Linked DNA regions of Homo sapiens. The protein of the gene in region 3 interacts with the protein of the main gene of each other region in a pairwise test. Each region holds a gene or a part of one and is shown on either strand. Other genes may lie near its edges. The genes, in order: WSB2, WSB1 and CSF3R.

Region 1 (11,823 bases), on a different chromosome or scaffold from region 3:
CATGCTCCACACTAGACCCTGAGCCACCCACAGTGCCCTTAGGGAGATGCAAGCCCAGGCCCTTCCTTCTACCCGGGAGCAGCTCTAGGTCATGTGACAGAAAAAAGACATATTTATCTATACAAATTTGAAAACAAGAGTGATTTTCAGGAAACTGACAGATCTTCCATGTTGTGCTTTTTAAAAAGAGCAGACTATAGAATTTATAATTCATATAGTAAATTTACTTACATGTCAAGTCTAGAAATGAAGGTGCATCCCTTGTATTTCAGGTAGGGAATTAGTAAACAATGTATGACCTTGGCATTATCATTAAACTGACCACAGAAGAAACTGAAAACTCTGATTAAAAACACATAACAAAATTTGATGGCTGCAAAAATATCATATGGAAATGGTAAAATTTTCGTAACCATCCTCTCATCCCTGGATTTCAAACTGTTTCCAATTTTCTTAACATGCAACTAATTTCATGATGAAGATCAGTGTATATAAATAGATGACACCATTTCTGAGATTTTTTTTTTTTTGAGATGGAATCTCGCTCTGTTACCCAGGCTGGAGTGCAGTGGCGCGATCTCAGCTCACTGCAACCTCCGCCTCCCAGGTTCACGCGATTCTCCTACCTCAGCCTCCTGAGTAGCTGGGATTACAGGTGCACACCACCACACCTGGCTAACTTTTTGTATTTTTAATAGAGACAGGGTTTCACCATGTTGGCCAGACTAGTCTCAAACTCCTGACCTCAAGTGATCTGCCTGCCTCGGCCTCCCAAAGTGCTGGGATTACAGGCATCAGGTACCGCGCCCAGCCCAGAAGAACATTTTTCAGGTCCTTGATGCATTTTGCCAGGCTTCCTTCCAAAAACTGCACAAATTTATCCCCCTCAACTCTAGCAGCATGCAGAGTACCCATCTCAACAAACTCCTGTCAACATTCCCTCTTATCAAGGCAAGTTTCATATCCAACTTATAAAAACCTTAAATCTAATGTTATTTATAAAAAATGCTTAAAGAAAAATAAATGAAAGCCTCAAGGGCAAGGGCCATGTCTGATTTATCTAACGACTCTCAGTCCCTAACTCAGTGTTACGCAAAGAAACTATGTAACCAAGGCTGGCCAACATAGTAAAACCCCATCTCTACTAAAAATACAAAAAAATTAGCTAGGGGTGGTGGCGCATGCCTGTAATCCCAGCTACTCAGGAGGCTGAGGCAGGAGGGAAGTGGAGGTTGCAGTGAGCCGAGATCGCACCATCGCACTCCAGCCCGGGCGACAGAGCGAGACTCCATCTCAAAAGAAAAAAAAAGAAACTACGCAACCAAGGCTGGCTGAATGAATAAATACAGACATAGAGTTGCCCTGGGACAAATGAAAACATACAGATGCTGGGCCATCTGAATGGGAGCTCACGGCATTCTGACACTGGGGCTTGTCCATCCCAAAGAAAGAAAAACTGGTATTAGAAACTAAACTTGGCCAAGCGCCATGGCTCACACCTGTAATCCCAGCTACTTGGGAGGCTGAGGCGGGAGGATTTCTTGAGGCCAGGAGTTCAAGACCAGCCTAGGCAAGACCCTGTCTCTACAAAAAATTTAAAAGTTGGCTGGGCATGGTGGCGCGCCTGTAGTATCAGGTACTTGGGAGGCTAGGGCAGGAGGATAGCTTGAGACCAGCAGGTTGAGGCTGCAGTGAGCCGTGACTGAGCTACTGCACTCAAGCCTGGACAACAGAGCAAGACCCTCTCTCTCTCTCAAAAAAAATAAATGAATAAAATAAACTTGGTTGATAATAAAAAGACAAAAACGAGCAAAGGCTCTGAGTAGACATTTATCCAAAGAACGTATACAAAGGACCAGTAAGCACCTGAAAAGATGCTCGGCCAGGTGTGGTGGCTCACACCTGTAATCCCAACACTTTGGGAGGCCAAGGCAGGTGGATCACCTGAGGTCAGGAGTTTGAGACCAGCCTGGCCAACATAGTGAAATCTCGTCTCTACTAAAAATACAAAAATTATCTAGGCGTGGTGGTATGTGCCTGTAGTCCCAGCTACTTGGGAGGCTGAGGCAGGAGAATTGCTTGAACCCAGGAGGTGGAGGTTGCAATAAGCTGAGATCATGCCACTGTACTCCAGCCTGAACAACAGAGTGAGACTCTGTCTCAAAAAAAGAAAAAAAAAAAGAAAGAAAGAAAAGACGCTTGACATCCATAGCCATCAAGGAAATGCAAATCGAAACCACTATGAAATGCCACTTCATACCACTAGGATGGCTGCCTGCTAGGATAATAAAAAAAGACAGACAATAACAACGGCTGGATGTAGAGAATCTGGAACCTGAATCCACTGCTGGTGGGAAAGTAAAATGGTGCAGCCACTCTGGAAAACAGTCTGACACCTCCTCAAATAGTTAAACATAGAAAACACAGGTTTTCTATAAATGTTCATAGCAGCACTATTTGTAATAACCAAAACATGAAAACAACCCAATGTCCATCAACTGATAAATGTACGAACAAAATTTGGCATCTCCATATGATGCAATAAAAGGAAATGAAATACTAGTATATGCTAGAATACGGATGAACTGTGAAAACATTATGTAAAATGAAAGGAGCTAGTCAAAAAAGGCTACGTGTTGTATGACTCCATTAATAGGAAATGTCTAGAATAGGCCAATCTAGAGAGACAAAGTAGATTAGTGGTTGCCTGGAGAGTGCAGGGGGGTTGGGGGATCTAAATTAAGGGGTACAGGGTTTCTTTCTGAGGAAATAAAGATATTCTAAAATTGATTATGTGCCAGGCACAGTGGCTCATGGGAGAAATGTGTAATCCCAGCACTTCGGGAGGCCGAGGTGGGTGAATCACTTGAGGTCAGGAGTTTGAGACCAGCCTGGCCAACATGGCGAAACCTCGTCTCTACTAATAATACAAAACTTAGCCAGGCGTGGTGGTGTGTGCCTGTAATCCCAGCTACTCAGGAGGCTGAGGCAGGAGAATCGCTTGAACCCAGGAGGCAGAGGTTGTAGTGAGCCAAGATTGCGCCATTGCACTCCAGCCTAGGAGACAGAGGGAGACTGTCTCAAAAAATAAATAAATAAAGTAAGACTGATGATGGTGATGGATGCACAACTCTGTGGATAGACTAAAAGCCACTGTATTGTATACTTAAATGGACAAACTGTGTGGTATATAAATTACATCTCAATAAAGCTATGGGAAAAAAAGCCAACTTGGGGCTAACATAATCTTGACAGAATTGACTTTCACATATACAGAACTTGGGGCTCTGGAAACCCCCATGATCAATTCCTGAACCATGAGCCACCTTCCCTCTCTCTGGTTCTTGGGCACAGAGATGGCAAAAGAACAAGGAGTGTTTGGAAATGCGCCGGATGGGGCCCCAGTACGAGAATACTTACAACTGCTCCTCCAACGGCCAGGGGATCAGTTTGACGATGCAGTGTCCTTGAGACCAAGCAAACCAGGAGCCATCTGGGGAGAAGGCGACGCTCCAGGTTTCACAGCTGGACTTCCAATCAAACTGGTGGGGGCGCCCGGGCTTGAGTTCGGCCAGCAGCAGCGGTTCCTCTGGGGCAGGAGACAACATGCTTCAAACACACACCCCCTTGCTCCCTGACCACCCAGACACAGGAAAGCCACTGTCTCCCTGTGGCAAAGAGCCACACTATCCATTCCCAGAGGGAGTTGTCACTTAAATGACCCAGGGCAATAACAGCAGCCACAGGCCACATTCCACCACGGTTACTCAATCCTGGCACTCCTCACTGCTGGTTAACCATGACTCACAGTAACCTTTGTGCCCATGAACCCAGTGAATGGAGGCCTCATTTTCCTATGAATACTTGAAGGGGAGGAAAGTGGAGAGACAGCCAGACCAGGAATATGCTAGACGGTGCTGATTATGGGGCCAAAATAGCAAGGCCTTCCAATGCATTTCAGGTTTCTTCAGAAGAACCTGCTGCTGTCAAAGAAGGAATATGTGAAACTCAAAGGCTCCCTCTCACTCGCCTGCATCCTCCCCATCATCAAGGCTAAAAACGTTCAGCCCTTGCCCTGCTTCCTCACACTCAGAAGTATGGATTCCATCTCCCCATCTCTCCCGCTTCCACGTCCTCTGTCTGGGGTTAAACCTTCATCTCATCTCACCCAGATCTTTTGCTACAGTCTCCTGATCAGTCTTCCTACCCCTAGAGATGCTGCTAAAGCTGAAATACCCACACATCACATCATTTCTTTCAAATACATTAGAAAGCTCCCGCCTGCCTACATCATAAAGGCAACTGAGACCAGGACTTTCACCACATGCCATCTGCCCCAGCCCATCGGTCCAACCTCCTTCCCTTGTCCCCTCCCTGCAGGCCACACTCTGGCCACAAAATCTCCTTGACATGCAAGGGGCTTATTTACGTTCACACCTGGACCCACTTTTGCTTATGAGAATCCCTAGCTTCTCAAAGTAACAAGAAAGAAAGAAAAAAGTAATAATCCCACCTAGATTCACAACTAAGAAGCGTACCCTGATCTCACACTATCAAAACGGAAATAAGTCGCACCTTGTTTATTTCATTCTCTCTTATGTAACCAATTTCTCTCTGCCCCCCGCCCTCGTCATCAGTGTCTAAGCACCTTGTTCCAACACCCAGATCATTTTGTCTTTGTTTCTCCCAGGACCTAGCACACCATCTTGTGAAAGAGTAGGCACCAGATTGGAGCTTCTTCATTGACTGACCCACAGTTCCTAGTTCAGTTCTCTACTCTGATGGAAGATTCTCATGGCTGATGAAGCTTATAAGTTAAAGGCCTTCAGAATGAATTTTTTGACCATTATGACTGTGATACTTACTAATATAAAAACTGGCTTCCATCCTGAATAAGGTCACTTCCTGATGTGTCCATTCCACACAAGGAATGTGGAATGTGGAAGACTTTGACCCTGGCTGTTACCAGATAGATATTCATTTTTAAAACCCGTATTTCATATATTTTAAGACACATCTTTATATATCTTACATTTTGACCTCGCTGAAATCAGGATGTATCTTATAATCAATGACTTTTCATAGTTAAATAGGTAGTATTTTTTTCTCAGTTATACATGATGATAATACAATCCATGGTATCTTGGATTCAATAAAACAGATGGTAGAGATGCATATGTGTATATTTATAAAATATTTTTGCCAGGTGCAGTGGCTCACATCTGTAATCCCAGCACTTTGGGAGGCCAAGGCAGGCAGATCACTTGAGGACAGGAGTTTAAGACCAGCCTGGCAAACATGGTGAAACCATGTCTCTACTAAAAATCCAAAAAAAAAAAAAAAAAAAAAAAATTAGCCAGACATGGTGGCGGGCACCTGCAGTCCCAGCTACTCGGGAAGCTGAAGCAGGAGAAGCACTTGAACCCAGGAGGCGGAGGTTACAGTGAGCCGAGATCGTGCCACTGCACTCCAGCCTGGGTGACAGAGCGAGACTCTGTCTCAAAAAAAAATTGGCTCATGCCTGTAATCCCAGCACTTTGTGAGGCCAAGGCGGGCAGATCACCTGAGGTCGGGAGTTCGAGACCAGCCTGACCAACATGGAGAAACCCCATCTCTACTAAAAATACAAAATAAGCCGGGCTTGGTGGCGCATGCCTGTAATCCCAGCTACTCAGAGGGCTGAGGCAGGAGAATCGCTTGAACCCGGGAGGCGGAAGGCAGAGGTTGCGGTGAGCTGAGATGGTGTCATTGCACTCCAGCCTGGGCAACAAGAGTGAAACTCTGTCTCAAAAAATAATAATAATAATAATAATAATAATAATAATTCTAGTATATGCATTTATAGGAAAATAATAACATAGGTATATCTTGTTATATAAAATAGGTGTGTGTTCCTGAAGTTTCTGTCTTTAAATAGAATGTTAATAAATCATATCAAGCCTTTGTAAAGAGACTATTCATTCTCAGAGGTTCTATGTGTAAATTTGGGTTTAATGTATTAGGTCTAGGCCAGGCACGGTGGCTCACGCCTATAATCCTAGCACTTTGGTAGGCCGAGATGGGATGATAGCTTGAGGCCAGGAGTTCAAGACCAGCCTGGTCAACATGGTAAGACTCCATCTCTTTAAAAAAAAAAAAAAAGAAAAAAGAAAGAAATATATTTTTATATATATGGTCTGAGTAAATAGCTATTTGTATAGACCCAGGTAAATCCTCCTAGAAATCTGTATGTTTGTATGTGTGACAGTTTCATTTATACAATCACATGTGTATAGCTATTTCTATAGACCCAGGGTTCTCAACTGGGGGCTAGTTTGCCCCTTAAGGACATTTGGCAGTAACATTTTTGGTTGTCACAACTGGAGTTGCTACTACTGCCATCTAGTGGGTGGAGGCCAGGGATGCTGCTCAACACTCTACAGCGCACAGGACAGCCCCCAGCAAAGAATCATCTGGCCCAAAATGTCAACAATGCCAAGGCTGAGAAACCCAGATGCAGTCAAGTATTAAATGACATTGACTGATCTAGAGAAACATTTTCAAATGACCTGGATGGCCTGGGGTAGTGGCTCATGCCTGTAATCCCAGTGCTCTGGGAGGCAGAGGTGGAAGAATTGCTTGAGACCAGGAATTCCGGATCAAATGACCAGGATGAAAATGTCTTTTTTTTTTCCATCCTGATAACATTCACAATTGGTTCACTTCCTCTACATTATCCTTTTTTTTTTTTTTTTTTTTTTTTTGAGATGGAGTCTCACTCTGTCACCCAGGCTGGACTGCAATGGCACAATCTCGGCTCACTGCAACCTCGGCCTCCTGGGTTCAAGAAATTCTTATGCCTCAGCCTTCCAAGAAGCTGGGATTACAGGCGTGCACCACCACACCCAGCTAATTTTTGTATTTTTAGTAGAGACAGGTTTTTGCTATCTTGGCCAGGCTGGTCTCAAACTCCTAGACTGAAGCAATCCGCCCACCTCGGACTCCCAAAGTGCTGGGATTACAGGTGTAAACCACCACGTCTGTTTTTTTTTTTTTAAATCTCCCAAACCAAATCCATTAGCAAGTTCTATCAAGTCTGTTTACAAAAGACTTGCCAAATCTAACCCCTCTCCATCTCTACTCTCATCTATGCAGCATCATCTCCCGCCTGGCCCAGTAGGCAACCTTCCAGCTGCTCTCCCGGCTTCCCCTCTAGCCCCGCACCATCGGTTCTCCTTGCCTCCAGAGTGGTCAGTTTCAAACACTGTTAGAATAAAACTCTAGCTCCTCACCCTGCCCTCAAAATCCAGCATAATCTGAACTTCCCTGGGCTTGTACTTCTCTCCCTGCCCCTGGCTCCAACACATTGCCCTTCTCTCTACCCTCTGCCAATGCTCAATTAGTTCTGACCCTAGGCCTTTGCACCAACCATGCCCTTCACCTGGAATGCCTCTCCTCGGCTGGCATCTACTCTTATTCAGGTCTGGCTCAAATGACAACTGCTTAGAGAACTCTTCTGACCCCTAGTCAATCTCCTTCACAACCCCTCACTTTATTTTCTTTACAGCTCTATCACCATTTGATCGCCATCTGTCTCCCCTCCACTAGGATATCAACTCCAGGGAGCAAGAACTTTGTATATTTATCCCCAGAGCTGGCAGAGTTCCTGGTGGAGGGCAGGCAGTGAGTAAATATTTGTCTAATAAATACATATGGTATAACTCTTTAAACAAAAAAGTAACATAAAGCTGGCCAGGCATGGTAGCTCATGCTTGTAATCCCAACACTTTGGGAGGCCGAGGCAGGCAGGTCACTTGGGGCCAGGAGTTCAAGACCAGCCTGGCCAACGTGGTGAAACCCCGTCTCTACTTAAAATACAAAAATTAGCCGGGCATAGTGGCGGGCGCCTGTAGTCGCAGCTACTCGGGAGGCTGAGGCAGGAGAATCACTTGAACCCGGGAGGTGCAGGTTGCAGTGAGCCAAGATTGCACCACTGTACTCCAGCCTGGGTGACAGAGCAAGACTCTGTCCCCAAAAAATAAAAAATAAATAAAGCCCCTTAAACTCTGATGATGCTTATGCCAAACATTTCACATGAAATGCTTCTTAAACACAAGCCCTACTCAGAATTCACACTCTATTTCTGTGATTTAGGGATTTAATCTCTTGCTATTTCAGGTTCAGGAATCCAGGAGCTAAAAGAAGAACAAACCCAGTGACTCCTGTCTCTTGGAGTCTGGGCCCAAACTAAACTTGGCTACACGGAGAGAAAGCCCTAATTAGTGCAGAACTTAAAAACAAAACAAACAAACAAAAACAGAGCTGGGGGTGGGGTATCTAGCTTCAACTGGTATGGTACTTGTAGATCCTTCTTGGTGAAAAGGCCTATGAATCAGGGTTTCTTTGTTTTCTCCTTTTTTTTTTGAGACAGAGTCTCACTCTGCTGCCCAGGCTGGAGTGCAGTGGCGCCATCTCGGCTCATTGCAACCTCCGCCCCCTGGGTTCAAGTGATTCTCCTGCCTCAGCCTCCCGAGTAGCTAGAATTACAGGCATGCGCCACCACACCTGGCTAATTTTTGTATTTTTAGTAGAGATGGGGTTTCACCATTTTGGCCAGGCTGGTCTCGAACTCCTGACCTCAGGTGATCTGCCCACCTCGGCCTCCCAAAGTGCTGGGATTGCAGGCGTGAGTCACCGCGTCCAGCCTCTTCTTTTTTAAACTGATAAATAAAAATTGTATATATTATGGAATATAACATGTTTTGATATATGTATACATTGTGGAATGGCTCAGTCAAGCTCATTACCATATATGCATTACCTCACATACTTATTTTTGTGTGGTGAGAACACTTAAAATCTACTCTTAGCAAATTTCAAGTATATCATATTCATATATATATTTGGGTTTTTTTTTTTTTTGAGACCCAGGCTGGGGTGCAGTGGCTGAATCACAGCTCACTGCAGCCTCAATCTCCCACCCAGATTCAAGTGATCCTCCCGCCTCAGCCTCCTGTGTATCGGGCTACGGGGGCGTACCACCACACTCAGCATTTTTTTTTTTTTTAAATTAAATTTTTAGTAGAGATGGGGGTCTGGCTATGTTGACCAAGCTGGTTTTGATCTCCTGAGCTCAAGCGATTCTCCTGCAGGCATGAGCCATTGCACCTGGCCCTGGATCAGGGTGTTCTAATTAAACAATGGGATGTGTTTGGACAATCAGGCTGAATGGAAAGGTATATATTATAAGCCTCTTCTAGGCAAAGCAGTTAGCCTTAACACAGAGATGAAAGCTATGACCCCAGCCAGCAGGAAGCTAGGTGATTTTTCCTGTATCAGGACATGTACATTAGATATTCCACCGGCCTCAAAAGCTTTCCTCAGTTGCTCCATCTTATCATTCAGGGATTGGTCCTCATGTCACCTTCTCAGAGACCATCCTGGCCTCACTATCTAAAGCGACCATACACTTTCCTTTTTTATTTTTTATTTTTTTTGAGACAGGGTCTTGCTCTGTTGCCCAGGCTGGAATGCAGTAGCACCATCACGGCTCACTGCAACCTCGACCTCCCCAGGCTCAGATGATCCTCCCATCTCAGCCTCCCCAGTAGCTGGGACTACAGGCACATTCTACCATGCACGCGCCTATAGTTCGGTATTTTTTGCAGAGATGGGGTTTTGCCATGCTGCCTAGACTGGTCTCAAACTCCTGAGCTCAAGTGATCTACCCAAGTTGGCCTCCCAAACTGCTGGGCCACTGCGCCTGGCACCATTCACTTTCCTTTAACCATTTGATTTTCTTTATAACCATCACTTAGATATTTTCTTCTTCTTTTTTTTTTTTTGAGATGGAGTTTCACTCTTGTTGCCCAGGCTGGAGTGCAATGGCGAGATCTTGGTTCACTGCAACCTCCACCTCTCCAGTTCAAGCGGTTCTCCTGCCTCAGCCTCCTGAGTAGCTGGGATTACAGGTATGCACCACCACGCCTGGTTAATTTTGTATTTTTAGTAGAGACGGAGTTTCATTATGTTGGTGAGGCTGGTCTCGAACTCCTGGCCTCAAGTGATCTGCCCGCCTCAGCCTCCCAAAGTGCTGAGATTACAGACGTGAGCCACCCCGGCGCATTTGGTTGATATTTTCTTGATTGCCTGTCATTTTTACGTATTTATTGTCTGTCTCTTTCTGAACCCACCCAAACTTGCCAGTTCACTGCTATTGGGCTACACTGTCTAATAGGGAAATCACATGTGGTTACCAACCACTTGAAATGTGGCAAGTCAGAATTCAGATGGGCTGTAAGTAAAAAATACACAACACGTTTTGAACACTTAGCACAAAAAAAAATCTAAAACATTACATTACAATTTATTTGATTACATGTAGCAGGAATATTTTAGACATGTTGTATTGAAAGAGTTTTTAAATTGTCACCTAGTTCTTTTTTCTTTTTTTTAATGTGGCTACTTGAACATTTTAAATTACATACGTGGCTCACATTAGACTTCTGTTGGTCGGGGCTGGCCTAGAGGGTGCCTGGCACATAGTAGACGTTCAACAAATATTTGCTGAATGAATAAGTGAAGTCTAACCATTGCTCTGAAGATTTCAACTGTTGCCCATTGTATTTCCTTTACAATGGGCTTTATTCCATTTGAAAATAAGTTAAAACTCTGGCCTTTTTTGTACAGTAACTTGGCAGCTCTCAACAACCCTGCCCACACCCTCAAAACGAAGTTGTCAATCTTTAGGAAAACCCCAGAACTGGAAACAGATTTCTGTTAAAAAGGCAGGCTAGCTACAGATTGCTTTCAGATTGAACTGTAAGGAGGCAATGGAAATCAAACGGAAGCTATAAAAAGATTCACATAGGATCTACACAAACAGTAGGGGCCCTTTTAAAAAGAATTCTACGGGTAACACTCACTGAAAAGAAAGCCCTTATCTAGATGGGAAGGAGAGAGAGCTGCCTTTAACTCAATGCCTGACTTCAGCAAACAAAGAAATGTCATTTCCTAAATTAAAAAGTAACACCACCCCAGGGAATACCCAGATTTCAACCTTCCCACCCACAGTAACAAGCCATCAGCAATCAGAACCCTCCAGACCAGGATGAAGCTTGAACTTGGCTGCAAGATTACCATGAAGTTCTGGAACAAATTCTGAGCCCTAGGCCTTGAACCTGCTCTGAAAATTTCTCCTAAGGAAATTACATTTAAACTCGGGTCCTTCAAGACCTGGGACTCCCGGAATCAATTCTAAATCTATCCCAAGTGGGGTTCCGAGGGAAGGTCGTTGGAGGGGAGAGGGCCAAGGCGTGCATGCGTCTTGGGGTTTTTTTCCCCTTGCATAAGAGACACACCTTTCCCACTGAGATTTTATGTTCATCTGGGCTGGCTTGAGGTATATCCAATATCCTCTGACTTCCACGCTGTCTTCTGATGGGGATGGCAGTTAACAAGAATAGAGGCAAGGTCCCCACCCATCAGTGTATCCTAAATTTGCCTGATCATACATGTCACCAGGGATCAGCGTCTCCAGTCCCGCCCCACCTCCACTGACTTAATCTCCAGTGGGAGAGGCTGGGAATAGATTGTTTCAATAGGGAACCCAGACCCCAGACCCCATTTTTACCGGGTCCCAGCCACCCTCCGAGGAAGGTACTAGGATTATCCCATTTTGCAGATCAAAACTGAGACGTGGGTGGCGGTGGTTCAGTGGCTTGTCCACTGTCACGATCACACAGCTTGTGAGGGACAGAGGTGACTCCCATCCAGACATGCAAGTGCGTCCCCTGGCACCTGGGTACCCAGGGGCACCCACCCCCTTGGGGATCTCCGTTTTAG
Region 2 (10,136 bases), on a different chromosome or scaffold from region 3:
CCATTATGAGGACTCCGCCCTCATGACCTAATCACCTCCCAAAGGCCCCACTCCCTAATATCATTACATTGAGGATTAGGATTTCAACGTATTACTGGTGGTGGTGGTGGTGGTCGTGGGGTGTGCATACAACATTCGGTCCATAATATTAACTGTGCTTTTCCTCAGCCATTACTGTGAGATTAATATTGTGAATCATACAACTTACTGGGTTTCCCATTTTGTGTGAGTTTGTTTTTGACACAGAGTCTGGTTCTGTCATGCAGGCTGGAGTGCAGTGGCGCCATCTTGGATCAATGCCAACTTTGCCTCCCAGGTTCAAGCTATTCTCCTGCCTCAGCCTCCTGAGTAGCTGGGACTTACAGGCATGAGCCACCACGCCCAGGTAATTTTTGGGGAGTATTTTTAGTAGAGATGGGGTTTCACCATGTTGGCCAGGCTGGTCTCCAGCTCCTGACCTCAAGTGATCTGCCCACCAGAGTCTCCCAAAGTGCTGGGATTACAGGTGTGAGCCCCTGTGCCCGGCCATTTTGTGTGAGTTTGGTGCCAAAATATTTAGCTCACTTGGTGCAAATGTATGTCTTTTAAGATTTCCATTTAAGGCAGGGCGTGATGGCTCATGCCTGTAATCCCAGCACTTTGGGAGGCTGAGGTGGGTGGATCACCTGAGGTCAGGAATTCCAGACCAGCCTGGCCAACATGGCAGAACCCTGTCTCTACTAAAAAAAAAAAAAATACAGCCGGGCGTGGTGGCTCACGCCTGTAATCCCAGCACTTTGGGAGGCCGACGCAGGCAGATCACGAGGTCAAGAGATCGAGACCATCCTGGCCACCATGGTGAAACCCCACCTCTGCTAAAAATACAAAAATTAGCTGGGCATGGTGGCAGGCACCTGTAGTCCCAGCTACTTGGGAGGCTGAGGCAGGAGAATCGCTTGAACCCAGGAGGCAGAGGTTGCAGTGAGCCGAGAATGTGCCACTGCACTCCAGCCTGGTGACAGGGAGAGACTCCGTCTCAAAATAAATAAATAAATAACCCAGGTGTGGTGGCACGGCCTGTAATCCCTGCTACTCAGGAGGCTGAGACAGGAGAATCTCTTGAACCCGGGAGGCGGAGGTTGTGGTGCGCTGAGCCTGCACCACTGCATTCCAGTCTGGGCAACAGAGCGAGTCTCCGTGTCAAAAAATATATATATATACATATATATATATATTTCTGTTTAATATCAGCCTCATTCTTGGCTTTTTTTTTTTGAGATGGAGTTTCACTCTTGTTGCCCAGGCTGGAGTACAATGGTGCAATCTTGGCTCACCGCAACCTCCGCCTCCCGGGTTCAGGCGATTGTCCTGCCTCAGCCTCCTGAGTAGCTGGGATTACAGACGCATGCCACCATGCTGGGTTAATTTTTTGTATTTTTAGTAGAAACGGGGTTTCACCATGTTAGCCGGCTGGTCTCGAACTCCTGACCTCAGGTGATCTGCCTGCCTTGGCCTCCCAAAGTGCTGGGATTACAGGCGAGGGCCACTGCACCTGGCCTCTTGGATCTATTTTAATCATTATCTTTCTCAGGTATCTCTCTAATGCCCATCATCCTTAATCTATTTTTTATAAGAACATTTCATTATTATTCAACAATTCGGAAGCATAAAACGACCCAGTGGAGTAGCCATTTCATTTCTCTTACTTACTGATCTATACTCGAGCAAGTTTGTCCAACGTGTAGCCCACGGGCCACATGTGGCCCAGGATGGCTTTGAACGTGGCCCAACACAAATTCGTAAACCTTCTTAATAACATTATGAGATTGTTTTTGTAATTCTTTTTTAAGCTCATCAGTTAGTGTATTTTATGTGTGGCCCAAGACAATTCTTCCAATGTAGCCCAAGGAAGCCAAAAGATTGGACACCCCTGTTCTAGATGATTTCTATAGCTCACACTTTACTTTTGGAGAACAATTTTTTCAGAAAGAGCCATTGATGCTTCAGCCTTATTTAAAACCAAACAAACACAAACTCACTATAATGACGGTGACAGGCAACACTGTATTATAGGTTTTCCTAACAAAACCTGTAATACTACTTTCAGACCAGAAGACCAACTGTTATGTGGAACTATAAAGAAAATTCCTTAATCAGTATCTTTAAAACAGAAACCAGAAGGATAATGACAGTAGTCTCTAATAGAGAAAATAGTGCTGGAGTTGATAAAAATTGAATTAAATCATTTTTTCCTTCTCCAATTCCAGCCCTATTCAATCATTTTCTGATTCCTCAACTGTTAAGATAAGCCTAGACTGGTCAGGCACTGTGGCTCATGCCCGTAATCCCAGCACTTTGGGAGGCCAAGATGGGCAGATCACTTGAGGCCAGGAGTTCAAGACGAGCCTGGCCAACATGATGAAACCCTATCTCTACTAAAAATACAAAAATTGGCCCAGCTCACGCCTGTAATCCCAGCTACTCAGGTGGCTTATGCACGAGAACCACTTGAACCAGGGGAGGCAGAGTATGCAGTGAGCTGAGATTGCACCACTGCACTCCAGCTTGGGTGACAGAGCGAGATCCTACCTCAAAGTAAAAAATAAAAGCATACATAATGTCAAAAAACAACCACACAAAGCTACCCCACCCACCTGTAATAAAACAGGTCACTTTATACCTGGCTCAGACCAGATTTTTGCTGGTGGCTAAAGAATGCTTTATGGATCAAAGGGCAGGTTGAGATTGCCTACTTACGTTCATTCCTTCCAAGCATCTTACCATAAACATCTGCCAAGGTTATGACGAGCATGTCACTAGGTTGCATTTTATTAGTTGCTGCCAACAGCTCTTACTTCTGATGGAAAAGAATTTAACAACAACAAAAAAACCCAGTATACTCCAACTTATGCTTTTTCTATGCTTTTATCACCAAATGATAGTACATCCATATATAACTCTAGATATTTGTTTTATAGTCCACACACTTGCTAGTTAAAATGTATTATCATAAGCCACAGTCTGTTCAGAATTACTTGGGTAAAATGCTATGTCACCTACAAACCCTCATCTGATTAATATGGAGGTTGTAATCACTGTCTCAATGGTTTCAGGCTCGTGAAACTTCTCATGCTATTTTCTTACGCCTGTGCTGGCTGGCTGACGGCCAAGTCCTCTGCCTCTGCCACTGCCTCAACCCATAAGCATGCTACAGTGCAGTCCAACCTTTTTTGGTCTTGCCGACCCAAGAGCAGTGTAAACCAGTTGAATCCAACTGCATCACAGTCACAGCAGGCAGGAAATTTCAAGGATCGTTAAGTTTAAGATTTGCCAACCTAAGATCAAGTTATAGGTTTTAAAGTGATTTCATTATCGCAAAAGGATAGCTTGGCTGCTGAGTGTGATTTTCCTATGTTCACATGTACTCCATGGGATTCTAAAACAGAAAATTAAATCTGAACATAAATGATCTGCCAGTTCTCCAAATGACAGGCTTGTGGCAAAATAGGAGAGGCAGTGTCATTTTCAAATCATGTAGCTAGAATCTGATCCAAGTCCATAATCAACGTCTTCCCTATTTTCCTTTGGTCCTTCAGTCTGTTATTACTGTTATTACCTTCTTCCCCACAGACAAATGGAAAATTCAAACATGTTTCTACTTGACATATACGCTGCAATCTTCCTTTCACACTGGCACTCACTATGGTTTTCACGAGAAGAGGTGGCAAACAGGTGAACATCTCACAGAATGTAGCTTCCAAAAATGCTGTTTTGGGCCAGGTTCGGTGGCTCACACCTATAATCCCAGCACTCTGGGAGGCCGAGGCGGGCGGATCACGAGGTCAGGAGTTTGAGACCAGTCTGGCCAACAGTGAAACGCCGTCTGTCCTAAAAATACAACAAAAATTAGCTGGGCGTGGTGGGGGAGCGCCTGTAATCCCAGCTGCTTGGGAGGCTGAGGCAGGAGAATTGCTTGAACCCAGGAGGTGGAGGCTGCAGTGAGCCAAGATCGCACCACTGCACTCCAGCCCAGGTGACAGTGTGAGACTCCGTCTCAAAAAAAATAAAAAATAAAAAATAAAAAAAGCTGTTTTTACTTGACTGGATATGTTGGTGTGGAAAGCAAAAATAATGCAATGATATGAAAAGTAATGGTATCTTATTTATTTAGAGTCTTACTCTGTCACCCAGGCTGGAGTGCAGTTGCGTGATCTCAGCTCACTGCAACCTCCATTTCTCCAGTTCAAGCAATTCTCTTGCCTCAGCCTCCTAAGTAGCTAGGAGTACAGGAACCCACCACCATGCCCAGCTAATTTTTGTAATTTTAGTAGAGACAGGGGTTTCACTATGTTGGTCAGGCTTGTCATGAACTCCCGGCCTTAAGTGACCCACCTGCCTTGGCCTCCCAAAGTGCTGGGATTATAGGTGTGGGCCACTGCGCCCGGCCAGTGTATTTTAAAATTATAAAGCCGATATATTACAAAGTAAAATGCAGGGGAAAAAAAGTCACAAGAAGTATAAAGATTAGATGCTTCTTGTGCTTCTTTTTGTAAAATACAGATGATCCTCAAGAAGTAACTTGAGCAGATTTTCTACTGGCTTTCAAATTGATAACCCTACACCCCCTATAAATTTTTACATTCCTTAACAGAGCTAACCATAGGAACTTCCAAATAATTTCTCAGTGGAAATGAGTCTTCAAAATCACACATGGCTCATAAGAGTTTTGCTTTTTTAATGCCTTCTCAAAGGACCCAGACTGCTAGATTTTCATAATAACTACTTTAACCAGATAGACTTACTATAGGCTGGTAGTTCCCCACTAAAAGATACTTTTCTCTTGCTTAGTAGTCACCTTCCTGTGTTCTAGAGCTTCCCTATGCTTTTAAAATATGCATTATTACAACAGTTCTCCTAAAAACAAAACCACCATAAGAGCTGCTGCACTCGGGGAGCCCTGAATGAATTCTAGAGCAGCGCCTGAGTCCTGCATTCTTTCTTCATTGTCCTTTTTGCTTAATTTGCCTGTGGTGTACCATCAACCTTACAATGGAGACAGAGAGAAAGTACTCCACCTAACCTATTTAAGAAACATTTGCAATATACTGTTTTTTTTTTTTACAAGTCTTTAATTAAAAAACTCAACAAAAATATATAATTGAGCATTTTACATAATGCATACATTCTTAATATCTGCAGGTAAGATAAACAACAGAAGGCAAAAGCAGATATGCTGTATTGCTTCTTTGGCAACTCACCAATATCATCCCCTGCAGAAACAGAGTTTTTTTTTTTTTTTTTAAATCCATGGTCTTAAAATAATTGTCCCTTAGTATAAACAAAATATTTAGCAATAATACAGTAGACGGATTCTTCAAATTCACAACAATTTATAATACTTTATACCACAAGGGTAAACTAGTAAGCTGCTTTCTAAAATTAAGGCAGCAGCAGTGTTTAGAGGGGGAGTAAAAAAAAAAAAAAAGACATCCTTTTTCTAGTTATATCCTGGCTCTGCCTTCTTTGTTGTTGTTTTTAAATAACGTCACATTCAAGCTCTACGTCTTGGATGACATTCCTAAGGATAATAAAATCCTTTTCCCTGTACATAAACTGTGTTTCACTTCCAGATCAGTCTGACACTCTCCAACAAAACCAAATACATTTCGTATGAGGCAACACAATTTTTTTTTTTTTTTGAGATGGAGTCTCGCTCTGTTGTCCAGGTTGGAGTGCAGTGGTGTGATCTTGGCTTACTGCAACCTCCACCTCCTGGGTTCAAGCAATTCTCCTGCCTCAGCCTCCCAAGTAGCTAGGACTACAGGTGTGCACCACCACGCCTGGCTAATTTTTTTTTTTTTTGTATTTTTAGTAGAGACAGGGTTTCATCATGTTTGCCAGGCTAGTCTCAAACTGCTGACCTCAGGTGATTTGCCCGCCTCACCCAATTCAACTTTCGTAAGTCAGTATTTACCATCTAACTCAGTGTCCCAGAATTTAAAATTTCCTTGCACTTTACAGCAAAGATACATATTGTGGCTCTACTGAAGCAATATATACATGTCAGAACTAAAAATCAGAAAAGCAAAAGGGTCCATTCAACATATAGCAGCTTATATCTAAATATGTACAGGTATGTATGTTTTCACAGTTAGATCTTTAAAAAAATTTATATTTGATATGTTCAGAAATACTTCTATTGTCTATAAATAATATTTTAAAAGCTCAACTGATCAAAATGCAGTACAAGAACATATCAAATTAAATAAATCTTCTACGTCTTTAAAAACAGATAATTGAAGTCAGTAAAGCTTGAGGTTTGTGTTAAGTGTATTCTGTCAGTCCCTACTACTAGGGAAGGCAGAATCTTCTAAATACGATACGAGAGAAACTCCAAAAGCTTGGAAGGAATCGGCAGCTCCTGAACTTCTTGGGTGGGCATCACTCTTCGGATTGACATGCGACATAAATGTTGCAGGCTAGGGACCTGCCGTGGAGTGGCCCAAAAATACACACTTCCGTCATGTGTCCTAAACAGAAACAAAGCACATGCTTAGTCACCCAAGTATATGTATTTCAGTGTTGCTACAGCTCAAACAACTATCACCCAATACATGTGAGTAGTGGAGTCACAAACTTCACATTAAAACCCAACCAGGAAGAACTAACCAATGATGTATTCCATGACAAGGTAACACTACTATGAAGAACACTTATTAGAGTTTTACTGACAATAAATTACTAGCTGCTAAAAGCCCCCTTAAATTGGCCCTTAAAGAAAAGAGAAAAATGGGCCAGGTGTGGTGGCTCACGCCTGTAATCCCAGCACTTTGGGAAGTTGAGGCGGGAAGATCACTTGAGGTCAGGGTCAGGAGTTTGAGACCAGCCAGGCGAACATGGTGAAATCCCGACCCTACTGGAAAAACGAACAAACAAATAAATTAGCCAGGACTGGTGGTGTGCACCTGTAGTCCCAGCTACTCGGGAGGCTGAGGCAGGAGAATCTCCTTGAACTGGAAGACGGAGGCTACAGTGAGCAGAGATTGCACCACTGTACTCCAGCCTGGGAGACTACATCTCAAAAAAAAAAAAAAAAAAAAAAAAAAGAGAAAAATATATTTACCCAGCAGCTAAAACACTGCCATCAGTAGAGAAGGCACAGCAAAGACCATTGCTCAAAGGTGCAACTTGCACTGGATAATCCTCATCAATTCTCCAGAACCTCACCATTCTGAAAATGAAATAAATTATTTAGTATCTTGTAGAAAATGTAAGGTAAAAGCAACTTTTTTAAAATTTAGAAAGAAATGCCATTGAGTTATGAGTCACAAAATACACACATCACACCAACAGGCAATTATAATAACTTGCTTTATACAATTACAAAATATTTTAAGGTCTATAATATCAGTTGGTAAATTGGATAAACTTTCACTTAAGAGACTACAATGCATGGCTGCCTTCCCTCCTTCCCAGTGTTCAAACCTAGAATGTTCACACCCGGAAACTTTCTCCTTACTTTCCTACACTTACAATACAATCAACTTCTAGTCTGTTTCACCCTTTTCCCAAGACATTTTTAAAAGCTAGGTGGGCCTGGTAGCTCACAACCATAATCCCACCACTTTGGGAGGCCGAGGTGGGTGGACTGCTTGAGCCCAGGACTTTTAAGACCAGCCTGGGCAACATAGGGAGACCCTGTCTCTACAAAAAATTTTTTAAAAAAACTAGCCAGGTGTGGTGGTATACCCCTGTGGTGTGAGATACTCGGAAGGCTGAGGTGGGAGGATCACCTGAGCCCAGAAAATCAAGGCTGTGGTGAGATGTGATTGCACCACTGCACTATAGCCTGGGCAACAAAGCAAGACCCTGTCTCCAATAAACAAACAAAAAAAACCAGGAAAGGAAAAAAAGCTTTTCACCCAGGCTGAGTGTGTCTACAAATACAGCAGAGAACTAACATGCAGAATCTATCTGAGCAAACAGGAAACAATGGTTGCAGACAAACAAACAAAAAAAACCTCTCTCCATATGTTTGCTAACATTCTGGGAAGAGAAGAGCTGCCTTATGAATTGACGTCACCGAACTACTCAATGCTATATGCATGAACACAGATGGTTGCAACTAGTTTCTGCTTCTTACCAACAAGCAGCACATATCATTCATGTGACATTTCATATTCTAATCTCAATCATGGTGGATACAAATTACTATTTATTTGTAATTCTTTTGGTTTTACTATTTGTTTCACTTTAGAAATTTCCTTCTGCTTCAACCTTTGTTAAGACATTACTTTAAAAAATCTCTGTAAGCTGGGCTAAAAGCTGACTAAAAATCAACCCACTATGCCTAAACAAGTTAAACAAGGAACACAGGGAGAGGCATGCATTATCTTTAGTTTACACAGATAATTGTTCAGGCCGATATTCTTTAAGACACAACAAAATCTCCCAGGGGCTTGTGTTGAGGAAGAGACATTAAAACTCTTAACTGCAGAAAGGCTTTAAGGCTTAAGAATGTAAAAGGTAATAGTAAGTCAGTCAAGCTATAATGCACATACTTACTTATCATCAGCAAGGCTTGCAACATGCAGTCCATCATGGCTAAAAGATACAGATCGTACCCACCGGTCATTTGCTCCTCCAGCAAATATTGGAGTAGGTGGGGGAAACAGGTGCCTGAGGTCAAATATATGTTTTCAGTGGATATCAGTCACTTCAAGAAAACAAAATTACCCAGGTACAAAGTACATCTGTCTTTGAATAGTGTTTAAAGTAGCCTTAATTAATATAACTGAGAAGACTCAGTAGAGATGATACATCCAAATTAAAGTCACCTGAAAAGAACTAATCTTTTATGGTCGGGCGCAGTGGCTCATGCCTGTAATCCCAGCACTTTGGGAGGTTAAGGCAGGTGGATCACGAGATCAAGAGATTGAGACCAGCCTGACCAACATGGTGAAACCCCATCTCTACTAAAAATACAAAAATTAGCCAGGGGTGGTTGCAGGTGCCTGTAAGCCCAGCTACTCAGGAGGCTGAGGCAGGAGAACTGCTTGAACCCAGGAGGTGGAGGTTGCAGTGAGCTGAGATTGCGCCACTGCACTCCAGCCTGGCGACAGAGCAAGACTCTGTCAAAAAAAAAAAAAATCTTTTATGATTTAAGACAGTAAGATTAAGTCCAACTTTGGTTTTAACTGTTTTTCTCCAACAAAAACTCTAAACATAATTAGTACTTCTATAGAGAGCTGGGTACTGTTAAGTAGCAAGACTTGTATCAAGAGAGCCAAATTTACTTTTAGAATTTATATCGAAGGCTTTCCATTAGTCAAGGGCTTAAATAATACCAACATTTTAAATTAGAATAGACTGTAATTTTAGGTTGCATATATTGGTGATTGTAATTATTCACATAACTTGATAGGTGGAGATGAATTATAGACTAAAATAATTCATGCTGTACCCACCCAAATTCCATCAGAATGTCTCCATTATGTGGATCCCAGATATATACTCGAGTATCATAAGATGCAGTAGCCAGTAATGCTCCATCAGGAGAAAAGTCACAAGCTACCACATCATGGTGATGTCCTTCTAGTTTCCGTATCATGGTGTATTTATCCATATTCCAAAGGAAAACCTGCAATAAAAAGGCAAATGTTATAGCTTCATTCAGACATACAGAGGACAAAATGGCACATCTTATACTAAAACTGCTAAATTTAATTAAGATTATATTAAGCATTATAAATTATGAGTAATTTAAAGAATATGCTCAGTGTCATAGTCAGATTAAAATCAGTCTTTAAGTTAATTAAGGCAGACATGCAAATTCTATTTCAAATGTTTCTGTTAAATGTTAATTTAAAAATAAGCCTAAACATAAAATAAAGGCAATGCAATTTAACCACAAAGCTATACTGAAATCCATTTATTCCAAAAACTAATTAACTAAAATATACGGAAATAAATAGGGTTAAGTACTACAAACCCCCTTCTCTTTTTTTTCCAGAAACTACCAGATTTTTAAAAAAATATACAGACAGAAAACGTAAGGTTAACAAATTGTTACTCCATTGGCATCTCCCTTTGAGATAATCACTTGTTTACAATAGGCTTGGGTCACCAACTTGAGCCTAGGAAGAGAAACAGATACT
Region 3 (10,033 bases):
GGGTCCAGGCTTCTCACCCCCCTCCCCTTTTCCCTCTGTTCCCTTGTGCTAGGTTCTAGGAAGGAGGGCAGGAAGAAACAAGTTGGTGGACACAGCAGGCTCTTAACTATTCACTGAACCACACTGTGACGTGCGTTACAGTCTGTCCAAAAGCTAACTCAGCTCCCTAGGCACATGCAAAGTGCATGCAAATCACATATAAATGCGTCCACGCCTCCCAGACCTGTTGGAGTCCTAAGCCCCGGTTTGTAGGGATCTGTTTGGACTGCGGGAGGTGTCGAGGTGGAGGGATGGCCTTCAGAGGGAGTCACCTTCCAGAACAGCTGCACTGTCCTGGGGTCCAGCTGCCTCTGCCGCCACCATGTGTCCAGTCTGACAGTGGGGGCTGTGGATGGAACAAGAAGAGGGGGTGCCAGTTGGGGAGGGGCCTGGGGCCTGGACTGGATACTGTTGGCTGCTCCCAGCCTCTCATCACCTCCTTACCCCGTTCGGTAGTTCTCAGCTCCAGGCTGGGGCTCCAGTCGCTCCAGTGGCCAGGCAGGGGCCAGCGGATGCAGCGTATCTGCAGGGTGTAGGCCGTGGCTGGGAGGAGCCCGCAGAGCTCATACTGAAGGGCCTCCAAGGGGAGGGGGCCCACCTGGTGAGGGGTGGACAGGACTCTGAGCCTTGGATCGCTGGGCCATTCTAGGGCCAGCTCGAGCCCGACTTACCCTGCCCCCTGCCCCCACCACCTCAGGCTCTCCAGGTTGCCCTCTGCCTCACCAGTGCCCAGCTGGCTTCTCCACGCTGCGGCTTGTGGCGCAGCTCACACTTCTGATTTATGTGCAGGCCTGGCTGCCATGGCTCCCAGCACAGCTGTAGGCAGCCTGCCTGGGGAGGGGCCGCTTCAGGGCTGGGGTCCATGGTCCGCAGCATGGGGGGCTCCAGTTTCACTGCAAGGAGTGGGGCTGTCAGAAGGTCTCCCTATCCCACCCTAGAGGGCTCTGCCTTAGCTCCCTCTTGTCTCCCTGTCTGTGGTTCACCATCTGTCCACGTTGCCAATGACACGTTTCTGTGGTTCGATCTCTATGTGTCTTTGTTTCTCTCTAGGTCTCTGTTTCCGCTCTTGCCCCAGGGCCTTTGCACTGGTTGTTACTTCTGCTTGAAATGTTTTCCCTCCAGATATCCAGCGGCTTGCTCCCTCATTTCCTTCAAGGATCTGCTCAATTGTCACCCTCTTAGTGAGGCCTTTCTTGACCAGCATATTAAAATAGCCAGTGCTCCCCTTCCCCCCTCTCTCTCTATGCCCTTCTCCTCCTTTAATTTCTCCTTTCTGCTTATTGCTATCTGAAATTCTATCTTATTTTCCCCCCCACTTGAATCTAACATTCTGAGGGCATTTTTGATGCTTTGTATCCCCAGTACCTAGAGCAGTGCCTAACATGTAGTGGGTGCTTTAGGAAACACGCTGAAAGCATGACTGAATGTGTCTCTTTGCCTCTGTGTCTCTTCCTGTCTCTGGGTCTGTGTCCCCATTTCTCTGTCTCCAGCTGCACCTTTCTTTGTCTCTGTCCCTCTTCTGTGCCTCTGTCTCTAGGTCTTCCAGTGTCTTCTTGTCTGTCGCTAGTTCTGTGTTTCCCTCTCCATTCCTCTCAGTGTCTGCCCATTTTGGGGATCCCCTCCCTCCCCTGCATCACCCACCAACATCCATGGGATCAAGACACAGTTGTGGGGACATGCTGGTCCCCAGCGCATTCTCTGCCTGCACCCAGATGCCCATATTCTGGTACAACAGCAGGTGTTTGCGTGGGATGCAGCAGTGGCTCTGCCCGTCCTTGGGCACGCAGTCCAGGATGGAGTCCCCTTGGGTCTGACAGTTGCCCCGGCTCCTGCCAATAGTCCAGGCTTGGGTGCCAAGCAGAGGAAGAAAGCGAGGCTCCCTTCTCCCTCCCAGAGGCATGCCCAGCATCCTACCCATGCCCTACCCCAGAATCCAAAGGGAGGGGACCAAGGTGGGGGCCCCTCCTCACTTGAAACTCTTCAGAGTGAAGCTGGTGGGTAGGTGGGTCTCAGGTCCTGGCTCCCACTGGCAGATGAGGCTGCTGGTTGTGAGGTTCATGAGGCAGGAGAGGTTGTGGGGTATGGCTGGAGGGTCTGCATGTGGGTGGGAAGAGTGTGAGGGCTTTGGGTGGGACCACTCAGAAAGCTTCCTCTGGGACCAGCTGGCCCTGTTGCCTTGCCCTGGCTTGGTTCCTCTGTTGTCACCTTGTCTGTCCCCCTGTCTCCAGGCAGAGTGGCTCTGGAAGGGCAGCCCTGGGGGAAGCTAAGTTGCAGGCATGCACCGGGGCAAGCATCACAGACTCCCAGCAGCCCAGTGGTGGCCCACTTCCAAGGCCCCCAACTCTAGACCCTTTGTCAGTGACAGTGTAGTGTTTGAGTTTTCATCCTGGTCCTGCCATTCATTAGCCCTGTGATCTTGAAGTTATTTAACTGCTCCATGCCTCAGCATCCTCATCTGTAAAATGGGGATAATGGTAAAATCCCACCCCCTAGCGTTATCACAAGGGCTAAATGACTCACTCTACATGAAGTGCTCAGAACAGTGCCTAACTTACAGGAAATGCTATGTAAGTGTTAGCAGTGGCCATTACTGGTGCTTTTTTTTTTTTTTTTTTTTTTTTTGAGACAGAGTCTCACTCTGTGGCCCAGGCTGGAGTGCAGTGGCGTGATCTCGGCTCACTCGGCTAATTTTTGTATTTTTAGTAGAGACGGGGTTTCCCCATGTTGGCCAGGCTGTTCTCAAACTCCTGACCTCAAATGATCCACCTACCTCAGGCTCCCAAAGTGCTGGGATTACAGGTGTGAGCCACTGCACCTGGCCCATTACTGATTCTTAAACAAGAACCTCGGTCTTTGTTTTTTCCTTATGCCTCAGCTTGGCACAAACTCCATCCTGCTCAGTTTGAAAGGAAGTTTGAAACTGGGGTGGGGGACAAGCCCAGCTGGTAGAGGATGTTCTCCCTGGAGACACCCTCAGATGGCTGAGGACTTGGGCTATGTAGAGTAGTGGTCACAACACTGGCTTTAGAGCCACACTGCCTCCATCCTTATTAATGTGTGATAAGGGCAAGTCACTTACCCTCCCTGAACCTCAGTTTCATCATCTGCAAAGTGAGGCTACATAGTAGTACCAACTGGTACTACTGTTACCTGATATCATGCCCATAAAGTGCTTATTAGATAAGAGCTCAATAGGTAGTACTCTTTTTTTTTTTTCTTCTTTTTTTTGAGACCAAGTTTCGCTTTTGTTGCCCAGGCTGGAGTGCAGTGGTGTGATCTCAGCTCATTGCAACCTCCGCTTCCTGGGTTCGAGCAGTTCTCCTGCCTCAGCCCCCCGAGTAGCTGGGATTACAGGCACCCGCCACTATGCCTGGCTAATTTTTTTGTATTTTTAGTAGAGGCGGGGTTTCGCCTTGCTGGCCAGGCTGATCATGAACTCCTGACCTCAGGTGATCCGCCTGCCTCGGCCTCCCAAAGTGCTGGGAATACAGGCGTGAGCCAACGTGCCCGGCTGGTAATATTCTTATTAGTATTGGCAGGAGGGTGTTGGAGGCAGAGTAGTTGGATGGCTGGAAGGACTTACAGCCTGCGCGCAGCTCAACCTGGTCCAGGATCTGCAGGCTGTTGCCCCAGTTCAGGCAGCAGGAGAGAAAGGCCTGAGTGTGGTTGAGGTGGGGCAGGGTGATGATAGATTCCTGGGTCCCATCAGACAGACGCTGCTGCCTGCCCCCGGGCTGAAGCTCTGCTCCCAGTCTCCACAGAATCTGTGGCTCCGGGTCCAGATGGCTGCAGTTCTGCTTGATGATGCAGGAGGCTGTGATGGGATCCCCCAGGTGGACGATGGGGGCTGAGACACTGATGTGCCCGCACTCCTCCAGACCTGGGGTGGAAGAGAATGGGCCAGGAACGACGCCTCTGCCTAGCAGAGCTGGGCTATAATCTAGGCCTTTGTACTCCTAGACTCAGAGGCCTCACCTTCCTGTCTCACCCTTCAAGATATGGGGGCTGGAAATGGAAGGATGGGGACGGAGACTTCGAGAGGCTACGGGGGTGACACAGAGATAGTGATGTGCTGGTAACCGTTTATCAGCCAGCTTGGCAGAGAAAAGCAGACCCTGGTTTGTAGTGTGTGCCTTTCCGCGGTGTAAGTGCTCTCACTGTAGCTGATTTCAGCCTATTGATGTGACATCATTGATCGGGGAGTTGGGAAGAGATGTGCACAATTAGTTTTTGCAAGCCAGCACCAGCACACCACCAGATGGAGACTGTTAACTCCCCAGTGCCCTCCCCAAGGATGGTGCAAGCAGTGATTAGAGTGATAAGAACCCATAGCCACAGCAATCTTTTCACAATTCAAATCTGATTCTGCTACCCCATCTCCATCGCAGCACTTCAATGGCACATTATTGCTCTGAAAGGCAGTGTGGTGTGATGGATGAGTGTGGATGTTGGAACTAGACTGCCTAGGTTTAAATTCTGGTTCTATTGCTTATTAATTACATGATCCTGGTATATTTCTAAGACTTCCTGTGCCTCAGTTTTCTCATCTGTAAAATGGGGATAAAAATCGTCCCTACCTTAGTGTTGCTGGAAGGATTACATGCGATAACATATGGAAGGCATTTAGAGCAGTGTCTGGCATGTGAGTATTTGCTGCCATCATTAGGATAAACACTCAAATCCTTCAATAGCTCCTGTGGCCTGGCCCCTGCCTGACCCTCTCAGTTCCAGCTTATACCGGTCTCTCAGCTCCAGCTATTCTGGCTCATTCTTGCTATTCTTTGAAAACTCCAAAATCTTTCTAATCTCTGGATCTTTGTCCCTGCTGTTTTTTTTTTTTTGTTGTTGTTGTTTTGTTTTGGTTTTCTTTTTCTTTTCTTTTTTTTCTTCAAGTTCTTGCTCTGTCACTCAGGCTGGAGTGCAGTGGCACGATCACGGCTCAGTGCACCCTTGACCTCCTAGGCTCAAGTGATCTTCCCACCTCAGCCTCCTGAGTAGCTGGGACTACAGGTTCATGCCAGCACACCTTGCTAATTTTTTGATTTTTTTTTTTTTTGGTAGAGATGGGGTTTCACTATGTTGCCTAGGCTAATCTTGAGCTCCTGGGCTCAAGCAATCCTCCTGCTTCAGCCTCCCAAAGTGCTGGGACTACAGATGTGAACCACTGTGCCCGGCATGCTGTTCTTTTTGGAGGGACTCTTCTTTCTCTCTCCCACCCCTGTTTCACCTGGTTAACGCTTAGGCATCTTGAAGAAACCAGACCAGGCACTAACGAACTGGAGGAGGCCAAGGTCCCTGTACTTCCTCAAAGCTCTTATTATCCTTCATAATTATAGAGTCTTATGATTATTTACTTATCTATCACTCCAGCTAGACTATAAATTCTGTGAGGCCAGCAGACCTTGGCTGTTTGCTTATTACTGTATTCCCAGTGCCTAGTACAGAGTAGGACCTTGGTGAATATTTATTATTATTATTATTTTGAGAAGGAGTTTCGCTCTGTCACCCAGGCTGGAGTGCTGTGGCACAATCTCGGCTCACTGCAACCTCCGCCTCCCAGGTTCAAGCGATTCTCCTGCCTCAGCCTCCCGAAAAGCTGGGGCTACAGGCACGCACCACCATGCCCGGCTAATTTTTTTTTGTATTTTTAGTAGAGATGGGTTTTCACCATGCTGGCAGGCTGGTCTCGATCTCCTGACCTCGTGATCCACCCGCCTCAGCCTCCCAAAGTGCTAGGATGACAGGCATGAGCCACTGCGCCCGGCCGATGAATTTTTTTTGATAAATAAATAAACAAACAAATCAACATACACTTTGCCCGCAATGCTTTCTGTCCTCTCTCAGGTGTTCTTAGGCCCGTTTTACTGATGGGGATGCGAAGGCCCTAAGAGGAGAAGCAGTTTGCCCAGGGTCACAGAGCAAGTTCATGATTCTCAACAAAGGGCTTCTACTGCTTCACAGGCTCAGGATTTCTTTTTTTTTTTTGAGACGGAGTCACTCTGCTGCCCAGGCTGGAGTGCAGTGGCGTGATCTCGGCTTACTGCAAGCGCCGCCTGCTGGGCTCACGCCATTGTCCTGCCTCAGCCTCCCGAGTAGCTAGGACTACAGGCACCCGGCACCATGCCCGGCTAATTTTTTGTATTTTTAGTAGATACAGGGTTTCACTGTGTTCACCAGGATGGTCTCGATCTCCTGACCTTGTGATCCACCCGCCTAGGCCTCCCAAAGTGCTGGGATTACAGGCGTGAGCCACCGCGCCCGGCCCAGACTCAGGATTTCAGGCTGGAAGAAACTTTACAAGGTTGTTTGCTTCAAAACTCTACCTGATGCTCTGCCCTCTACAGCAGGGCTTGAGTGGCCTATTTTTGTATAGCCTAACAACTAAAGATGTTTCTTACATTTTAAAAGAGTTAAAAACAAGCAAAGCAAAAACCAAATAAAAACATGCCACAGGGCTGGGCGCGGTGGTTCATGCCTGTAATCCCAGCACTTTGGGAGGCCGAGGTGAGTGGATCACCTGACGTCAGGAGTTTGAGACCAGCCTGGCCAACATGGTGAAACCCCATCTCTAGTAAAAATACAAAAATTTGCAGGGCCTGGTGGCAGGTGCCTGTAATCCCAGCTATTCGGGAGGCTGAGGCAGGAGAATCGCTTGAACCCGGCAGGCGGAGGTTGCAGTGAGCTGAGATCCCGCTACTGTACTTCAGCCTGGGCAAGAGAGTGAGACTCCATCTCAAAAAACAAAAAAACAAAAACCAAAAAACATGCAATAGGCAGGGCGTGGCGGGTCATGCTTGTAATCCCCATACTTTGGGAGGTCAGGGCAGGTGGATTGCTGGAACCCAGGAGTTTGAGACCAGCCTGGGCAACATGGCAAAACTACATCTCTACAAAAAAATACAACAACAAAAAAAAATTAGCTGGGTGTGGTGGCATGCCCTGCACTACCTTGGAGGCTGAGGCGGGAGGATCACTTGAGCCCAGGAGGTTGAGGCTGCAGTGAGCTGCGATTGTGCCACTGCACTCCAGCCTGGGCAACAGAGGGAGACCCTGTCTCACAAACGAACAAACAAACAAACAAACAAACAAACAAGGAACAGAGACAGTATGTGGCCTGCAAAGCCTAAACATTACTGTCAGAAAAAGTTTGCCAACCCCTGCTGCACAGCATCTTTATCAATCCTGGCTTTAGCTTGCATACCCCTGGGGATGGGAAGTTCTCTACCTCTCAAGACAGAGTTTCCATGGTTGGAAACCAAGCTCTGCCTGGGCTTCTTTATTTCAGGATGAAACCTGTCCCCTTGTAGCTTCCATCCTGATCCCTTTGCTGCCCACCAAGGCTGCATAGGACCCATGGGTTGCTTCTGACAGCTTGGTAGAGATTTGCGGACAAGATCTGCGCCTCACTGGCCTTTTCCAGGATGACCAGCCCGGGTCGTCTCACCATTCCTCTTGGGTGGTGGTTTGCCTGTGGAAGTCTGTGGGTGGGAGACCAGCTACCCCACATCTGTGGCTCAGACTTGAATCTTGTGGGATTCTCTGGGAATCCCAGGAGCCATGTGGCAGTGCAAGGAAATTCCCAATATCTCTCCTTGTAGCTTCCCCTCCCCACTGCACCCTCATCCTTGGCCATACTCACTTCCGGGGAGCAGCAGGATGATCAGGGCAGCCCAAGTCAGGCTGCAGTTTCCCAGCCTTGCCATAGCACCAACTTGATGTTCACCTGTAGGCAGAAGGGTTGTTTAAGACCATGGGCTTTGGAGTCAGAGCTGATCTTAATCCTTGTCTGTCACTGTGCAGCTTTGACTAGGTTGCTTGACTTCTCTGAGCCTTCGTTTCTTTGCAAAATGGAAGTAACAGCAGCCTATACTGCATGGGACTTTGAGAGGAAGACACAAAATGATGCAAGTCAAGGGCTTTTCACAGTGCCTGGAACATAGGAAATGACAGTGACAGCCACAGTTATTATACTTGCCTTCCAGGAAAGAGCAGGGAAAGGAGCAGTGAGGAAGAGCATTCTTCCGCCTTCCCAGCTATCTAAGCTAGGCTACCCCTAGAGAGCAGAACCTGAGATGAGGAATTGCATGCTGGTAGTTTATTTTGAGAAGATCCTAGCAGCAGATAAGGGACTGGGGAGAATGAAACAGGGAAGGAGAGAAAGCCAGCACAAAGTTACATCATCATGTTGGTCACCTCTATGGACAACTGGGGCTCTATCCTGCTGGAACCTTCCAAAGAGCCATGTAGAACACTTCTCAGAGCTGTCCACTGGAGGGTCAATTTATCCCTTGGATGGGAGGGAAGATGGAAAGATTTACCCACTGACTCCTGCCCCCCATTGGTCAAGGGATGCCTCTTGGGGTGTTCATTCCCTGGCACATCCAGGTTGGGCATGCATGAGTACTAGGCAGGTTCTCCTGGGGAAGCCATGCCAGTGTTGTCAGGGACACTCCCTGGAAGAAAGGGAGAACTCTATGGAGCAGCTGAGGCAAGGGGCTGTCAGGTTATGCCTGCAGGAAGCTGGCTGCCTCAGCCATGTGGGCTGAGAGAATATCAAGTGGGGCACCCGAAGGGTCCAGTGTGCCCCCAATTTTGGGCACAGACCTCTGGTGGCCTTCTGGGGTCAGGCATCATGAGGTCACGGCCATAGCACCTGGATGGAGGGTGCCTTGGCTCCAGTCTTAGGAAGTATGCAGAGGTTTCTACCACTTGGGTGGGTGTCCAGCCTCATCTTCACCCTGCTCCCATTGGGGTCTTGGAGCCAACACCTGATCCTCCAGCACGAGTTGGTGCTCTTGGTGGCAGATCAGTGGGAATCGCTGGTCAGCTTGCACGTACATATCTGGACACATACACGCAGGTGGTGTCCCAGCAGATCCCTCGTGCTCAGCAGGGAGAAAGGTAGGAGAATCCTTTTCTCTTCCTCCCAGACAGAGGTGTGGATAAGAACTGCCCAGATACCCAAGGTTGTTACTGCTCACAGGGGTCTTACCCAAACCCCCAGTCTATCCATGTATATATTGCAGTATCGGAATACCCAGTGACTGCTAGCCCGTAAGTCTCCTTTGTGCAAATCAGAAAGAAAGCACCCCTTCCTCTGGATGGATGCAGCACCACACTAGGACCTGGCAACTAGGGAACAGCCTGGATTTCGGCTCCAGTTACTCCTCAGTTTTGTGCAGTGAGAAACCTGTACAAGTATCCCGAGCATCTGTCTACCCATCGGTGGTTGGTAACCTTCTTACTATAGCATACCAGTTTGATTATCCCCCCGCAACACTGGTTGGGGAAGATTTAGCCTCCAAGGCCCAGATTTTGGGACACTGGTTTTCATCTCCATGTGCTTTTGATCCTATCCCAGCCCTGTTGCCCTAGCCAGGGTCAGCTTCAGGCCCAGCCTATGCCCCGTGCAGTACCACCCTATCCGCCTCCACTGGCTCCTGTCCAGAGTAGACAACCTAACCCCAAGAGGCCCCGGCATCCTTCCCCTGGGTGCTGGGTGTTGGCCTGCTTGGCCTCAGTCTCTGGTCCTCCACTGCAGCCCTGGACGTCCCCCAGCCTGGTTAAGTGGGCCTAGGACCTGTTGGAGCATGGTCTCACTCTCTGGGGGGCCGATATGCAGAGAGGTTTGGAGCCCAGCTCAGATTCAGGTCACCTGACTTGATCTCCAGCTCCGCCACTTACCAGCTTTGTGATCTTGGACAAGTTACTTCACCTTTCCGAGCCGAGCCTCAGTTTCCCCATCTGTGGGAAAGAAATAACATTAGCACTCACTCCTCAGCGTTGTTGTGAGGATGAAATGAGATTATTTTGGTAAAGGCATTTAGCCCTGTGCCTTGCATGGAGTTGGCACTCAGCAACCATAGGTTATTTTCACGAGCCATAAATAGCAGGTCAGCAGCTCACAGAATCCAGCACAGTTCAGTTTTCCCCTCACCCCTGCCTCCCTCACAGCCTGTGTGGTCACACCTCCCAGGACTGCCACCTTGCTTTT

Evidence for each region.
Region 1: the proteins of CSF3R (region 3) and WSB2 interact in a protein complementation assay, tested with the Homo sapiens proteins (one study listed by BioGRID).
Region 2: the proteins of CSF3R (region 3) and WSB1 interact in a protein complementation assay, tested with the Homo sapiens proteins (one study listed by BioGRID).

Annotation. Positions count from the first base shown.
Region 1 is NC_000012.12:118,048,890-118,060,712, forward strand, and holds part of WSB2 (WD repeat and SOCS box-containing protein 2), read right to left. Parts: intron 3,590-11,823; coding exon 3,421-3,589; intron 1-3,420. UniProt on the Homo sapiens protein: May be a substrate-recognition component of a SCF-like ECS (Elongin-Cullin-SOCS-box protein) E3 ubiquitin ligase complex which mediates the ubiquitination and subsequent proteasomal degradation of target proteins.
Region 2 is NC_000017.11:27,308,583-27,318,718, reverse strand, and holds the end of WSB1 (WD repeat and SOCS box-containing protein 1), read right to left. Parts: exon of another isoform or gene 9,620-10,136; coding exon 9,447-9,619; intron 8,659-9,446; coding exon 8,545-8,658; intron 7,211-8,544; coding exon 7,103-7,210; intron 6,510-7,102; coding exon 6,350-6,509; 3' UTR 2,793-6,349; downstream 1-2,792. UniProt on the Homo sapiens protein: Probable substrate-recognition component of a SCF-like ECS (Elongin-Cullin-SOCS-box protein) E3 ubiquitin ligase complex which mediates the ubiquitination and subsequent proteasomal degradation of target proteins.
Region 3 is NC_000001.11:36,471,755-36,481,787, forward strand, and holds part of CSF3R (granulocyte colony-stimulating factor receptor isoform a precursor), read right to left. Parts: intron 9,784-10,033; 5' UTR 9,724-9,783; intron 8,327-9,723; exon of another isoform or gene 8,233-8,326; intron 7,763-8,232; 5' UTR 7,743-7,762; coding exon 7,679-7,742; intron 3,920-7,678; coding exon 3,623-3,919; intron 2,134-3,622; coding exon 2,010-2,133; intron 1,869-2,009; coding exon 1,681-1,868; intron 933-1,680; coding exon 763-932; intron 638-762; coding exon 484-637; intron 386-483; coding exon 312-385; intron 1-311. UniProt on the Homo sapiens protein: Receptor for granulocyte colony-stimulating factor (CSF3), essential for granulocytic maturation. Plays a crucial role in the proliferation, differentiation and survival of cells along the neutrophilic lineage.